Regions from separate parts of the Homo sapiens genome. Here region 1 is linked to region 2. Evidence: fine-mapped expression QTL. Tissue or cell type: whole blood. Region 2 holds a variant in brackets; the other region holds the start of a gene. All regions are shown on one strand. Distances are from middle to middle.

The links. PIP is the estimated chance that this variant, and not a neighbour inherited with it, causes the effect.
Region 1: ZMYND15 starts here. The variant in region 2 is fine-mapped to the expression of ZMYND15 in whole blood (TOPMed, PIP above 0.99).

The regions. Positions count from the first base shown.
Region 1 is chr17:4,735,776-4,743,775 of GRCh38, forward strand. It overlaps ZMYND15 (zinc finger MYND-type containing 15), which reads left to right and starts at 4,058. Exons shown (of 14, transcript NM_001136046.3): 1 at 4,058-4,275; 2 at 4,744-5,365; 3 at 5,807-6,041; 4 at 6,140-6,295; 5 at 6,556-6,716; 6 at 7,528-7,680; 7 at 7,992-8,000. The coding sequence starts at 4,774. CXCL16 (C-X-C motif chemokine ligand 16) reads right to left here and starts at 4,153. Exons shown (of 6, transcript NM_001386809.1): 1 at 3,486-4,153; 2 at 3,007-3,145; 3 at 2,633-2,715. The coding sequence starts at 3,564. RefSeq lists enhancers at 2,666-3,571, 3,572-4,476 and a silencer at 4,025-4,244.
Region 2 is chr17:4,709,911-4,717,910 of GRCh38, forward strand. It overlaps ARRB2 (arrestin beta 2), which reads left to right and starts at 722. Exons shown (of 15, transcript NM_004313.4): 1 at 722-834; 2 at 5,103-5,133; 3 at 6,063-6,123; 4 at 6,237-6,281; 5 at 6,502-6,698; 6 at 7,307-7,366; 7 at 7,775-7,842; 8 at 7,978-8,000. The coding sequence starts at 812. RefSeq lists enhancers at 340-509, 5,152-5,221, 7,638-7,807 and a silencer at 439-968. The variant T/A (reference allele first, on the strand shown) is at 3,081.

The sequences.
Region 1 (8,000 bases), 26 kb after region 2:
GACGTATGATTGGATTGGCCGGGCGCGGTGGTTCACGCCTGTAATCCCAGCACTTTGGGAGGCTGAGGTGGGTGGATCACCTGAGGTCGGGAGTTCGAGACCAGTCTGACCAACATGGAGAAACCCAGTCTCTACTAAAAATACAAAATTAGCCAGGCATGGTGTCATGTGCCTGTAATCCCAGCTACATGGGAGGCTGAGGCAGAATCGCCTGAACCCAGGAGGTGGAGGTTGCAGTGAGCCAAGATTGCACAACTGCATTCCAGCCTGGGCAACAAGAGCGAAACTCCATCTCAAAAAAAAAAAAGAAGTATGATTGGACAAAAAGGGTATGATCTAATGGCAATAAATGGGGGGTGGGGGACCAGCAAGGCCTGTCCAGATTCTTCTTGGCCTCCAAGTATAGGGCAGGACCCATCTGAAATGAGAGCCTATGACCTACTTCCACGTGAAGTTAGAGAATTCCTTTATGGCCAGCTCTCACAGAAAAACAGAGCAGAGTGAGCTACTTACTTCTGCTGTTTTCGTAATTACCAAGGTGCCATGTTTTGGAGTGTCATGTTCTGAGCTCCAACAGAGGGAAGAGTGAGTCAGGGAGGTTATCACGCTGAAGGCCAGAAGAGGAAGGCAGATGACAGACGGAAAAGGTAGGGGACAAGGAAGTGAGCGAACCACGAGACAAGTGGGTGTCATGAACTGGGAAATCAGAAGACCAGGGTTGGATTCCAAGCTCTGCTGTAAAGTAGCTGTGTAACCTCAAGTAGCTGTGTAACCTCACCCCTTGTCCCTAACCTCTCCGGAAGTGATATCTTCCAGCTGTAAAATGAGGATAATTGTAGTACCAAGGGCCAGGGTTCCTGGGAGGATGAAAGGAAATCATAGAGGTCTAGGCAGACTTAAAGGCAGTATGGATGACACAGATCCTACAAAACTTTAGCTAGGACATGGAAGAACCTTTTGTATTTTAATGGTTGTATATTTATTTTAAGAGAAAAATATAACCAATGCATCAAACTTGTGACTTCACAGATATTATTGCTTAGGATAATTTACTATTTAAGTTTTCTTTCTTTTTTTTTGTTGCCCAGGCTGGAGTGCAATGGCCTGATCTCGGCTCACTGCAACCTCCGCCTCCAGGTTCAAGTGATTCTCCTGCCTCAACCTCCTGAGTAGCTGGAATTACAGGCACATGCCACCATGCCTGGCTAATTTTGTATTTTTAGTAGAGATGGGGTTTTACCATGTTGGTCAGGCTGGTCTCAAACTCCTGACCTCAGGTGATCCACCGGCCTCAACCTCCCAAAGAGCTAGGATTACAGGAGTGAGCCACCGTCCTGGCCTCTACTTAAGTTTTCAAAACTAGTTTGTGCACACTTAAAAGTAATTCATTTCATTGTATGTAAATTTGAACTCAAAAGAAAAAAAAGCATTAAAATATTGAACTCTACTTAATATACATGCTGAAATGTCTTGGGATGAAGTGCAATGATGTCCACAATCTGCCTTGAAATGCATCAAGAGGCCGGGCACTGCGGTTCACACCTGTAATCCCAGCACTTTGGGAGGCTGAGGCAGGTGGATCACCTGAGGTCAGGAGTTTGAGACCAGCCTGACCAACACGGTGAAACCCCATCTCTACTAAAAAAATACAAAAATTAGCTGGGCATGGTGGCGGGCACCTGCAATCCCAGCTACTCGGAAGGCTGTGGCAGGAGAATTGCTTGAACCTGGGAGGCGGAGGCTGCAGTGAGCTGAGGGCACCATTGCACTCCAGCCTGGGCGACAGAGCAAGACTCCATTAAAAAAAAAAAAAAAAAAAAAAAAGAAATGCATCAAGAAATAAGGTGATGGATGATGGATAGAAGAATGAATAGATGGATACTTAATAAAGCAAATATCGTGTAATTGCTGTAAAATTGATAGTGTAAAATATATGTTTATGTAAATATGTAAAATATACATATATAAATAAAATTGTAGAATCTAGGTGGAGGCACTGGATATTCAGTGTGCCATTCTTTCAACTTTTGTATATGTGTAAATTTTCATAATAAAATATTGGAAAAGAAAAATAGGCCAGGTGTGGTGGCTCACGCCTGTAATCCTAGCACTTTTGGAGGCCGAGGCGGGTGGATCACAAGGCCAGGAGTTCGAGACCAGCCTGGCCAACATGGTGAAACCCTGTCTCTACTAAAAATACAAAAATTAGCCAGGCTTGGTGGTGCGCGCCTGTAATCCCAGCTACTCAGGAGGCTGAGGCAGGAGAATCTCTTGAACCTGGGAGGCAGAGGTTGCAGTGAGCCAAGATCGTGCCACTGCACTCCAGCCTGGGTGACAGAGTGAGACTCCATCTCAAAAAAATAAAATAAAATAGTACTTTGATTTCAAGAAAAATATTAATAAGTAGACAATAGCACACGTGGTAGAATGAATTGGCAAAACTCATGAAGGTGATGGTGAATGATCACCCCGTTTGGCAAACAGGGACTCGAGTCTAAGTACTTTGGACAGGATCAGAAGAAGGTTCTAGGAATGTGCGGCCCCAGGGGAAAAGGCTCAGGTAAAGAAAACTGTCAGGTGGAAGCTGCTAAGCCCTGGAGGCAGAGCCTGAAGAGCAGTGGAAAAGTCTCACCTTTGAGATCAAGACAGCTCATCAATTCCTGAACCCATGGGTCCTTGTTGCCCCCACACACGCTCCAGGAAAGGAGCTGGAACCTGCGGAGGAGAGACCTGGGCTTAGCTGCGGCGCCTTCTTTCCTTCCCCGGCTCCTTCCTCATTCCAGAGGCGTGAAGTTGCCACCAAGAAAGAGCCCTTTCTCCTGGGACTGGGAAACTCCCCAGTAGGTGAGACGGAGTCATGAAGTTTCGGGGAATGAGAGCAAACGGAACCCGGAGATGGGGCTCGGTGAGCCGGGAAGGAGTTCAGGCTGGACCAGAGAGGGTCCTGGAGGCACCTGCAAGGAGGGGCCGCCCAGGCGCTGCCCTCGCAGAGGCAGGTAAAATTACCTCGTGTAGTATAGACACCGATGGTAAGCTCTCAGGTGTTTCCGGAGACGATTCATGAACTGAACCGATGGCGGGGAGTCGGAAGAAATTCTTTTACCACAATAACAACTTCCAGTGACGCTGCCCTCGTTGCCATTGCCTGCGCGGGACGGAGGTGGTCGGCACCCATTCCCAGGCCCAGGGTCCCCACTCCGCTGTTCCCTGGCATCCAATCCACAGCCCCATGACAGCCTCTCGGTGGACCCAGGGTCAGAGCGCCAGGCTCAACCCACACATCATCACGCCCCCGACAACATCCATAATCCCGCCCGGAGCCAGGCGTCCCCGGGCCTCTGTCCCCAACCCCAGGCGGCTGGCTGGCTTTCCTCTTGTCCCCGCTGCCTTCATCCACTCAACTCCGTGGGCCTCGTGTCCCCTCCCCAACTCACCCCCTTCCCGTGACAGGGGAATCTGGGTCCCCTGCCCCGCCCCCGGCTAACCTGGCTGAGTCAGGTACACCAGCAGGAGCAGAAGCAGGAGCAGGAGCACGCGGGACCCGGGCCGCAAGTCCCGTCCCATCTCGGGGCTCCGCGGACTCTGCGGGGATGGAGCCACCTCGCTCTGACTCCCAGACATGCTCCGGCGCGTGACGTCCAGCTGGTGTCTCAATGGCTTTCGCCGGGGACCGGAGGAGACGGCGGCCGGAGAGGAGGCGCGAGCCAGCTGCACCCCCCGGCCCTGCTGTGCCCCGACCGTGCGCTCAGTACTCGGCCCGCGCCATGCCAGCCTCTGGACGCAGGGAAAGCCGAGGAGGTGGAGCTCCCGCGCCCTGCGCCCCCGCACTGGGCCCGGCTCCGTCGAGGGAAGGCCAGGAATCTTGGAAGAAACCGAAAGAAAACTCCGGCGGCGGGCGAGGAGGGGCGGGAGGACGACGGCCCGAGGAGCCGATTCGGTTCGGTTCAGGAGGCCGCCCGCCTGGCCCGTCCGCCGACCTGTGAGGCGGCTGCACTGCCGGACCGGCCCTCCTCCTCCGAGGCACTTTCACTTCCCCGATCCGGGCGCCGCGGGACCCAGCCGCGCTGCATGAGCCTCCCGGGCGGCCCGGTGGAGAGAGTCGCCGCCAGCCCCGGCCGCGCGCACCTGCGGGGCAGCCACCCGCGGACGCACCGAGCCCGGGGGGCGTGGCCGCCCGCTGAGCCGGCGAGGGCTCGGGCAGCCCTGACGTCACAACCGCACCCGCGCACCCTCCACCGCGAGGTATTTACCTTCGAAAAGTGGTGGCGGCTGCAGGTACCGGAGGAGTGGGGCGGCCGGGAGGGGCTAGGTCTACCGGGGCTGCCCGCCACGCAGATCCGAGCCCAGGGAACCCCCTCGCTCCCACTCCCATACCCCACAGACGCATCCAAAATGCTTCCCTCCCCACCAAACCGTTCCCGATAGGATTAGCCCTCTCTCCTCTCTAGCCTTAATTTAAACTCTGCTTTTGAGGGTGTGAACTCTCCAATTTTAAGCCCCAAATACCATCTCATCCCTGAGTAGTCTTCTCCAACCCTGGTCACCCACTTTCAAGTCCAGCCCCCATTTTCCTCCCTAAACTCCCATCCTCAGCCCTGAAAAATCCTCTTCTCCGCTCCTAGCATATCCACGGATCCAACCCTAAGTGACTCTCAAACCTACCCTCTCCCTCAATTTGTGACCCAGCCCCAAACTCCATCATTGCTCTCCTGTCCCTCACCATATATCCCTTCTTTTGCTCAGTCTGGGCCGGGGCCCTGTGCCGCTGAAGACATGGAGTTTGTGTCTGGATACCGGGATGAGTTCCTTGATTTCACTGCCCTTCTCTTCGGCTGGTTCCGAAAGTTTGTGGCAGAGCGTGGAGCTGTAGGGACTAGCCTTGAGGGCCGCTGCCGGCAGCTGGAGGCCCAGATCAGAAGGCTACCCCAGGACCCTGCCCTTTGGGTGCTCCATGTCCTGCCCAACCATAGTGTGGGCATCAGCCTGGGGCAAGGGGCAGAACCAGGTCCTGGACCAGGCCTGGGGACTGCCTGGCTCCTGGGAGACAACCCTCCACTCCACCTGCGAGACCTGAGCCCCTACATCAGCTTTGTCAGCCTAGAGGATGGGGAGGAAGGGGAGGAGGAAGAGGAGGAAGATGAAGAAGAAGAGAAGAGAGAGGACGGGGGTGCAGGCAGCACAGAGAAGGTGGAACCAGAGGAGGACCGGGAGCTAGCCCCTACCAGCAGGGAGTCCCCCCAGGAAACAAACCCTCCAGGAGAGTCAGAGGAGGCTGCCCGGGAGGCAGGAGGTGGCAAGGATGGCTGCCGAGAGGACAGGGTGGAGAACGAAACAAGACCCCAGAAGAGGAAGGGACAGAGGAGTGGTAAGAACCCAGGGCTGGCCCTGCCCTACCCCTTGCCCAGCCATCCTCCCTTCGGAAGCCCTCCCCTGCCACTAGTTCTGAGTGCTGGCCTTCAGGCCAATCTGGCCTGAAAAGGTGTTTTTATTGACCCACAGTGGGGTTTTTTTTTTTAATTTAATGTTTAAACATTGCAAGAAAAAAAGTATCCAGAAGTCTGGATTTACACATTCCCAAGAAAAATCTCAAGCTCTGACAGTGGGCCTACATTTCTGCATGGCAGCGCATTCTGGTCCTCTGTAGCAGCTGTCCCCTTTAGAAGGAGCGTGCCCTCTCTACCCAGAGCCCTTTACTCAGTGAGGTTACTTGCCTAGCCCCGTAGGTATTTGAGTTTGGTACTCCTGACCCTGACCACATTTGTCTCTCGCTGCCCCCTACCACCTCAACTTTTCCCTCTTTCCCCAGAGGCTGCCCCCCTGCACGTTTCCTGTCTCTTACTTGTGACGGATGAGCATGGCACCATCTTGGGCATTGATCTGCTAGTGGATGGAGCCCAGGGAACCGCAAGCTGGGGCTCAGGGACCAAGGACCTGGCTCCTTGGGCCTATGCTCTCCTCTGTCACAGCATGGCCTGTCCCATGGGCTCTGGGGATCCCCGAAAGCCCCGACAGCTTACTGTGGGAGATGCCCGGCTGCATCGGTATAGAAATCTGGTATCTGAGGCTGGGGAGGACTCGGGCCCTGGATTCCCAAGCACCTCCTCCAGCCTGATGCCATCTCCCCCCCAACTGCATTTAGAGAGCTGGAGAGCTTGGTCCCAAGGCTAGGTGTGAAGTTAGCCAAAACCCCAATGCGGACATGGGGTCCCCGGCCAGGCTTCACCTTTGCTTCCCTTCGTGCTCGAACCTGCCATGTGTGTCACAGGCACAGCTTTGAAGCGAAGCTGACACCTTGGTGAGCAGCCCCAAAGCTGGGGGAGAGGAAGACCCCAATAGGCAAATAGAAGGAAGGCAGGGTGGTGGGGGGCGCCTAGCAGACAGAAGGAGAGGCAGGGACATGAGAAGATGCAGAGGAAACAATACAGACTGTTACAGGCGGTTAGAGGGTGTAAGACAAACAGACCGAGTGACATATGGGCAGCTGCTGGGCAGTTGAACAGCAGACAGGACCTACAGAGGTTAACACTAGGTGCCCACCACCCGCTGTGTCCCCAGCCCCCAGTGTAGTGCTGTCTTGTATTGTGGAGAGGCTTGTCTCCGGGCTGACTGGCAGCGGTGCCCAGATGATGTGAGTCACCGATTTTGGTGCCCAAGGCTTGCAGCCTTCATGGAGCGGGCAGGAGAACTGGCAACCCTGCCTTTTACCTACACCGCAGGTACCATAAGGAGGTCAGAATGGTTGGGGGAAACTGGGACCAGGTCTTTGAGACTGGGAATTAGATGTCTGGGAACAGGGTCCTGCAGTTGAAGGCTGAGTGTCTGGGGCTAGAGCCTAGATCCCTGGAACAAGGGCAGGGGCTGGGTGTTTGGGGCTGGAGACAGGGTCTCTGAAGCCGAGGCCTGAGTGTCTGGGTCCCTGAGAGCGTGCAGGGATTGGGGGACAGGGATTCAAACACTTACTTGCTTCCCAGCTCCACCACTAACTGCAGTGTGACCTTAAACAAACCACTTTACTTCTTGAAGCTTCCGTGTCCTCATGAGGGATACGGAGAAGGCCCATGGAATTGTTACAAGGATTATCTTGGCTTGGTGCCTGGTACGCTGGAGGCACTCAGAAATGGTAGTTCCCGGCCTGACTGGAACCAGACTTAGAACCAGGGTCCTCGCGGGAGGCTAGGGAGAGTTCAAGGCTGGGGTTCTAGGCCGGGCAATGGTTCACACCCGTAATCCCAGCACTTTGGGAGGCCAACTTGAGCCCAGGAATTTGAGATCAGCCTGGGCAACATAGACTCTGTCTCTACAAAAAATAGAAAAAATTAGTCAGGCATGGTGCACTCGCTTGTGGTCACAATTCTCGGGAGACTGAGGTGGGAGAATCGTTTGAGTCCAAGAGGTCGAGGCTGTAGTGTCCCGTGATCACGCCACTGCACTCTAGCTTGGGTGATAGAGCAAGACTCTGTCTCAAAAAAAAAAAAATGTCTGGGGTTCTAGCCCAGCACCTCAACTCCTCCCCTTCTCCTTCTCCAGAGGTGACCAGTGAAACCTTCAACAAAGAGGCCTTCCTGGCCTCTCGGGGCCTCACTCGTGGCTATTGGACCCAGCTCAGCATGCTGATTCCAGGCCCGGGCTTCTCCAGACACCCCCGAGGCAACACGCCATCCCTCAGCCTTCTTCGCGGTGGTGCGTGGGGTCTCTCCAGGCATGGGCCCCTTGGCCTAGAGGGAAGGACTGGGAAGAAGTTGTCTGGGTCCCAGATGATCCCTCCACATACACACTGACCCCTACCAACAGCACCAGGGCCATTTCAGGCCTTTCCCAGCCCTCAATGGAATCACCCCTACCAACTCCACCCAGAAACCCCATCCCTATGCAAACCCCCATTCCTCTTACTGCGGCTGTCTCAGGGAATACAGCCCCTTTGGAAGGAAGAAAGAGATGGGTCAGGTGGGGGTCTCCCTGACCCCAGGCCCCTCCTTCTTTCATCCTCTCAGGAGACCCCT
Region 2 (8,000 bases):
AGGCACGGATGGATGGGTCCATAGATGGACCGATGGATGGGAGCGGGTGAGTGAGTGGATGTTAGCTGGGATGGGTGGGTGAAGGAGATGGATAGTCAGAGACATTGGAAAAGGGAACCCTGCGAAGATCAAATGCAAACACCAGGAGGAGCTGACACGCTGCAGTGAAGAAGCGGGAGGGCTGGCCACAGAAGGCGGCACGCTCCGAGTGGAGCAGGTGAGCGGCGCGCACTGAAGCAAGCATCACGCAATTGAACCGCTCACCCACGTGTTCCCCCCCACCATCCTCCTTCCCAGACGGCGCTTCAGCTCATTCCACCGCCCCCAGCAGCCCGGTCGCCCCCACCGCCACTGAGAAAGCAAACAAAGGGGAGGAGACCCCTGCAGGTTCTGGATGCCGAAGGCCAATCGAAAGACTTAGATCCCCTGGAAGGCGGGCGCCTTGGTTTAGGGGGGTCCAATCGGTTTCAAGGGGTTGCAGCGGGGCGGGGAGATGGGCGGGAGGAGTGGGAGCTGGCCCCGCGCGCGGGGGAGGGCTACCAGGCTGGGAAGGAGCGCGAAGGGCTGGGGGCGGAGCCAATGGCCCCGCGTGTCTGCTAGGAGAGGGCGGGCAGCGCCGCGGCGCGCGCGATCCGGCTGACGCATCTGGCCCCGGTTCCCCAAGACCAGAGCGGGGCCGGGAGGGAGGGGGAAGAGGCGAGAGCGCGGAGGGCGCGCGTGCGCATTGGCGCGGGGAGGAGCAGGGATCTTGGCAGCGGGCGAGGAGGCTGCGAGCGAGCCGCGAACCGAGCGGGCGGCGGGCGCGCGCACCATGGGGGAGAAACCCGGGACCAGGTAAGGGAGGTGGGGCCACGCGGCGGGGCATGGGCGGCGGCTCGGGGCGGGGGCTGGGACGGTCCCAGACGAGGGCGCAGCGGAGAGGATCTGGGGGCCGGACGCCTGGGTCCCTAGGGACAGCCATCCGGGGCCGCACGCGCAGGTCCTCGAGGATAATGAGGGTGGGGGGGAAATGCCCGGGCCCCTGCAGAAAGCGAGGCCTGAGGGGGATCAGAAAAACCGGTGTCGGGGTTCTCGCAGGGATGTGGGGCCAGACTACTGGGCTCTCCCGTGCAGGCTGCGATGCAGGGATGGAGGAAGGAGGAGCAGGTGGCTGGCCCCGAGGGGTCGTGTACGGGGAGGCTGGATGCCGGGACGGGGGGGATCCACTCCAGACTCGCGCCAAGCCAATGGAAAGCCTCCTATCCAATATCCCCCAGGTAGTCGCGCTGCCCACACCTGTCCCGAGGGCCGGGTGGCTCCTCACCCAAACTTCTACCTTCCCTTGGGTTGCCAGGAGCAACAGCTTCATCTTGGGGGAGCCGAGTGCGTGGCGACCCTCCCTGAAACTAGATCGTATCCCTCTCTCTGGGGGTGGGGGAGGCAGTATTCACCCTGGGCGCGCGTCCACTCCCCGGATGTTTTCTGTGCAATCGAGGCTCTTTCCTTCCACTGATACCCCGAGTTCTCTTTTTTGGTCTCTAGCAAAATCCACTTCCTGTTGTGACTCAACACCCCCAAGGGGCAAGGGGTGGATGCCTGAGTCGCAGGGGAGCGGGAGCAAAAGACGAAAAGGTTGGGGCTGTAGGCCTCAACTCAGAGGGTATCAGGAATAGGGAATTGGTCCTGAGCTCTGGCTTGCTCTGCAAAACATCATATCAACCCCACTTCCAACCTATAGAGTATGAGAACCCGGGTTTCTGAGCATCAAGTAGACGAGCATCAGAAAGAGATCATCAGAGAGATGATCCGTCTCCTGGATCAGGGTTTAAACATCCCAGAGAAAGGGGAAGTTGCTGACTTGTGGGAGGCCCCTGATTTCCGTCATGTGGTTCAGGGAGTGGGACGGATGGACCAAAGGAGACTGCTAACTTGGCACAATTTCCCTCACCCCCATGAAATTCTGGGCCACAGGAAATGGAGCGAATAGCAGGAAGTGTGAAAGGACATCTGCTTCAGCTACCCCTGCTCCCACTGGGCACCTCCCTGGTCATCCCCACACTCTGCCTCCTTGGCCAGCCTAGTATATGCACGCTGCTCCTCCCCAGCCTGGCAGGAGGTGGCTGGGTTAGGATCCAAAGGGCAAGTGCCTTGCAGCTGCTCCAGGGCAATTGCCCCAGAACCACACTCCAGTTGGCCCACTGATTGTGGCTGTCACAGCCCTGTGCCAGGGCTCCTAATGGGAGGACACCCTGGGACAAAGAGGAAAACCAGAAGCAAAGGGGAGGGAGAGCCTGGATGATGCCACGGCACTCAGCTCCCAAGTTGGGATGAAAGATAGGGTGTTTATTCTAGCGGCTACCATATCGATGTGTATTCTCTTTTATTGGTTAGGAATACCTGGGGCCCTCCATACCCTTTGCCTTACAACCTTTGGACAGCTTGGCTTTCTGGGAAGAAGGGGCAAGTGAAGTTGTAGCAGAAACTGGGCCTATGGTAGAAACCATGTAGGGCCAAAGGCCAGGGTCATTGCTCTCCTATATGCTCCAGCTGTCAGAGCTGGAGACCAGATGGAAAGATGGTTAGGTCTTACCCAGACACTGTGGTAACCTGCCCATTGGGGTCCTCTGGGAATGGGGTGGTAGACTTGGAAGAGGGATGGGCTAGTTGGCAGGATTTCACGTTTCTGCTATCTATCTGAGGATCCTTTCCAGGGATCACTGCTGAGGCAGAGTGGATTGGAAGGAGTAAGGTGGTGCTTCAAAGAACAGGCCCACAATTGGCCAGATCACTGGGGTTGCCAAACACTTCCTTACCCTCCCAGCAATGGGTGGAGTCCAGGCTTAAATTGTTTCAGCAACTGGAAAGCAAATAACCTTCAATTCAACAAACTATTTATGCCAACTGCAGAGACAGATAGTGTAATATTGATCGAGAGGATGGACTCGGAGCCAGACTGCCTTGGTTTCTATTAATTCCCACCATTTACTCCCTCTGTGACCTTGAAACACTTGACCTCTCTCTGCCTCAGTTTCCTCACCTGTAAAACAGAGATATTAGGAGCTCCATCACTGGGTGGTTTTATTTAATTTAATTAATTTATT[T/A]ATTTATTTATTTTTTGAGACAAAGTCTTGCTCTGTCACCCAGGCTGGAGTGCAGTGGCTCAATCTCAGCTCACTGCAACCTAAGGCCGGGCACGGTGGCTCACGCCTGTAATCCCAGCACTTTGGGAGGCTGAGGCGGGTGGATCACCTGAGGTCAGAAGTTGGAGATCAGCCTGGCTAACATGGGGAAACCTCGTCTCTACTAAAAAAATACAAAATACAGGCCAGACACAGTGACTCAAGCCTGTAATCCCAGCCTTCTGGGAGGCTGAGGCGGGCGGATCACTAGAGGTCAGGAGTTTGAGATCAGCCTGGCCAACATGGGGAAACCCCATCTATACTAAAAATATAAAAATTAGCGGCCGGGCGTGGTGGCTCACGCCTGTAATCCCAGCACTTTGGGAGGCTGAGACAGGTGGATCACGAGGTCGGGAGATTGAGACCATCCTGACTAACACAGTGAAACCCCATCTCTACTAAAAATACCAAAATTCGCCGGGCGTGGTGGTGGGTGCCTGTAGTCCCAGCTACTCGGGAGGCTGAGGCAGGAGAATGGCGTGAACCCGGGAGGCAGAGGTCGCAGTGAGCCGAGATCGCACCACTGCACTCCAGCCTGGGCGACAGAGTGAGACTCCGTTTCAAAAAAAAAATTAGCCAGGCATGATGGCAGGCACCTCTAATCCCAGCTACTCAGGAAGCTGAGGCATGAGAATCGCTTGAACCCAGGAGGTGGAGGTTGCAGTGAGCTGACAGCGTGCCACTCTACTCCAGCCTTGGTGATAGAGTGAGACTCCATCTCCAAAAAAAAAAAAAAAATACAAAACATAGCCGGGCATGGTGGCTCACTCCTGTAATCCCAGCTACTCAGGAGGCTGAAGCAGGAGAATCACTTAAACCTGGGAGGCGGAGGTTGCAGTGAGCTGAGATCGCACCACTGCACTCCAGCCTGGGCAACAGAGTGAGACTCTGTCTCAAAAAACAGAGTATTACAAGAGATGACACATTTGAAACACTTGGAACAGTGCTGGGCATGGAGTAGTCACTCTGAAATGTTAGCAGCATTACCATCTTCATGATATGGCTGGCATTGTGCTGGAGATGCCTAAATTAATAAGGCCTCTGAGGCTCACAGTCTGAGGAGGGAGGGAGCTAACTATCCTTGTGTGCTACCACACCACAAGTAAAACATAAACAAGGTGTGACAGGAACCCAAAACAAGGAGCGACCAGGGTCTGGGCTGGGTCAGCTTCCTAAAGGCTGGGCCTTAAAAGACAAATAGGCTTTTAAGCTCTTGAGGTCGGAGTTGGGGACAGTTGGAGGTGAGTAGAGTCGAACTTGGGTAGGGCCTGTGGTAGAAACTATCTGAGGGCCAAAGGCCAGGGTCATTGCTCTCCTATATGCTCCAGCTGTCAGAGCTGTAGACCAGATGGAAAGATGGTTAGGTCTTATCCAGACACTGTGGCTACCTGCCCATTCGGGTCCTCTGGGAAGAGCCTGGGTGGTTCCTAGGGCAACCAGTGGCCATTACTGGGGAGGGAAGGGGACGAATGAGGGTGGACAAGACAAGGGGCATTTCCCCTTGCCACCACGTTAGAAATAGGAAGGACCTTCCGGGAAGAAGGGTTCCCCTTGCCACCACGTTAGAAATAGGAAGGACCTTCCGGGAAGAAGGGTTCCCCTTGCCACCACGTTAGAAATAGGAAGGACCTTCCGGGAAGAAGGGTTCCCCTTGCCACCACGTTAGAAATAGGAAGGACCTTCCGGGAAGAAGGGTTCCCCTTGCCACCACGTTAGAAATAGGAAGGACCTTCCGGGAAGAAGGGTTCCCCTTGCCACCACGTTAGAAATAGGAAGGACCTTCCGGGAAGAAGGGGAAAGGGGCAGAGCTGGGCAAAGCCCCACAGCCTCAGGCAGGAGGCCTGGGTGAGCACTGCTTCTCAGGCCTGGGAGGGAGAGGGTCCTGGTGTGGGGTCCCTGCTGAGTCTGAGGGAGGCAGTGGGGTTTCCCTTTCTGTTTTGTTAGGGTCTTCAAGAAGTCGAGCCCTAACTGCAAGGTGAGTCTCCACAGCACTTACCCTTTTGACCCTCCCTGGGCCCCAACAAAGCCCAGCCTTCCCCTAGACGATCCCCAACCTACCCAAAGATGATCCCCAACCCCTAGCTCCCCACTTCCTGTGACAGCTAAGCGCCGACTTCCTTCCCTCCTGAAGCCCCTTGCCGCAGAGGCTGCTCAGCCTGAGCCAGCCACAGGGCTGGGTGGGGCAGGCTTGGGTCCCCAAGCAAGACCACAGAGGAGGAGGCCAAAAGCAAGCCATGTGCCTGTAGCCCTCCTAGGAGCCAACCCAAGGTGCGTGGGGCTGGGAAAACCTAACAGCCCCCGGGCTATGGCCTATTTATCCTAGAGCCCCTTGAGGGGACCTAGTGAGGGTGGCAGCTGCTCTCTAGCTGGCTGGTTGGGCTGAGTTCTCCCCGAGGATCCAAACACACACACACACAGACACACACACACATACACACATACACACACACCTGGCTGGTTGGGCTGAGTCCTCCCTGAGGATGCAAACACACACACACGGACACACACACACACACACGGACACACACAAACACACCTCGCTGGTTGGGCTGAGTCCTCCCTGAGGACACACACAGACACACATGCACATACATGTTCACACACACACCTGACTGGTTGGCTGAGGACACACACACACACACACACACACACACACAAACACACACACACCGGGCTGGTGGGCAGAGGTGTGCAGAGATAAAGGAGCAGCTCAAAAGCCTAAAGGTCCACTAGTCTGAGAAACGCCACCACCCTCACTTTCCAACACTATTGGGAGGAAACCTGGAACAACTCCTTCCTGATAGCCCAGCCTGGAGATCCCCGGGCAGGGCAGCCAGTTTTGAGGGCTCCGATGCCCTGTCACCATCCTCCCCAATCTCCCCTGTGACCCCTTGACATCCTCAGCTCACCGTGTACTTGGGCAAGCGGGACTTCGTAGATCACCTGGACAAAGTGGACCCTGTAGGTAAGTTTTCCCAGAAAGGGACAGCTCGTTCCCCAAGAGGGGAAGAAGTTCCCGGGCCCAGGAAAGCGGGGAGCGGCCCTTTCAGGAAGTGAGCTGGTGTGTCCCCCTCCTAGATGGCGTGGTGCTTGTGGACCCTGACTACCTGAAGGACCGCAAAGGTACTGGCCCCAAGTCCAGGGGGCCCAGGGAAAGTGGGGGCTAGGGAAGTGAAATGGGCTGGCCTTGGAAGGGCGCCCCAGAGAGATGGAGGCTGGAGGTGGAAGCCAGGAGTAGGGTTCAGGCAAGTCTTATGCTGCTGAGGGAGGAGCAGCGGCTGCTAGGTGCCAGGGGACTGGGGAAGTGGGGCTCCTGACCACTCATCTCACCCTCCCTTGCCAGTGTTTGTGACCCTCACCTGCGCCTTCCGCTATGGCCGTGAAGACCTGGATGTGCTGGGCTTGTCCTTCCGCAAAGACCTGTTCATCGCCACCTACCAGGCCTTCCCCCCGGTGCCCAACCCACCCCGGCCCCCCACCCGCCTGCAGGACCGGCTGCTGAGGAAGCTGGGCCAGCATGCCCACCCCTTCTTCTTCACCGTGAGGATGCCCCTGCCCTCTGAGGGCCAGGGGGCTGGGGCTGGGACTGTGTCTGGGGTGGGGGTAAGGCACTGCTGTGGGCAGATCTGGAAGAAACAGTGAGGCAGGGACCCTAGATCCACTTCCCTTCAGGGTCCCAGTGCATTCAGGAAGCCCTTGATTATCTGCCTCCTCTCTGGGGCCCCTTCCTTCTTCCCTTCTCATCCCCAGGAGTCCTTTCTCCAGCCTCTTTTTTGTTGTTGTTGAGACAAAGTCTCGCTCTGTCGCCCAGGCTGGAGTGCAGTGGCACAATCTTGGTTCACTGCAACCTCCGCCTCCCAGGTTCAAGTGATTCTTATGCCTCAGCCTCCCGAGTAGCTGGGATTACAGGCACGCACCACCACACACGACTAATTTTGTATTTTTAGTAGTGATGGGGTTTTGCCACGTTGGTCAGGCTGGTCTGGAACCCCTGACCTCAGGTGATCCGCCCACCTTAGCCTTCCAAAGTGTTGGGATTACAGGCATGAGCCACCACACCCAGCGTCTCCAGCCTCTTAGGTTGAGATTTGGAGGAAGATCTGGGGGCTTTCTGGAAGAACTGAAGTCTTCTCCTTCCTCCGCCACAGATACCCCAGAATCTTCCATGCTCCGTCACACTGCAGCCAGGCCCAGAGGATACAGGAAAGGTACGGGAGGAACAGCTCTGAGGGCTCCTAGGGCAGGACATGGGCCAGCAGGAGCCTGGAGGCACAGCTGAGCCAGAGGGTGAACTGTCGAGATGCCAGGGTGGGGCCGAGGGTAGGCCAGTGTCCCCCGTGGAAGTGGGGCGTATGTGGTGGTCATTGTGCACGCATGACACTGCCTCCTGCTCTGTGGACCCGCATGGATCTGGGGATGGGGGCTCCCCTTGCACTACCATGACCAAGCCTCTGCCAGGTTCTGGGCTTTGGAGAGGAAGAAGACTTAGTCCCCAGGGTCGTGAGACCACAATGAGGCAAGAGTCCCTGCCCGAGAGGAGGGAAGGGGGAGGAAGAAAGGGCAGTGATGGTGGCGGGAGCCTCCGGTAAGATGTGGCCTTTTCTCCCCTCCCCGAGGCCTGCGGCGTAGACTTTGAGATTCGAGCCTTCTGTGCTAAATCACTAGAAGAGAAAAGCCACAAAAGGTAAGGGAAGTGACCTCCTCTGTGGTGTAAGAGGAGGCTTTCCTCCCCGCTTCCAGGAGCCCAGGCCCCGTGCGGGGGAGGAGTAGGGTTGGGGTGTGTGAGGAATGACCCCTCCTGCCCCTACTCTGATCCCAGGAACTCTGTGCGGCTGGTGATCC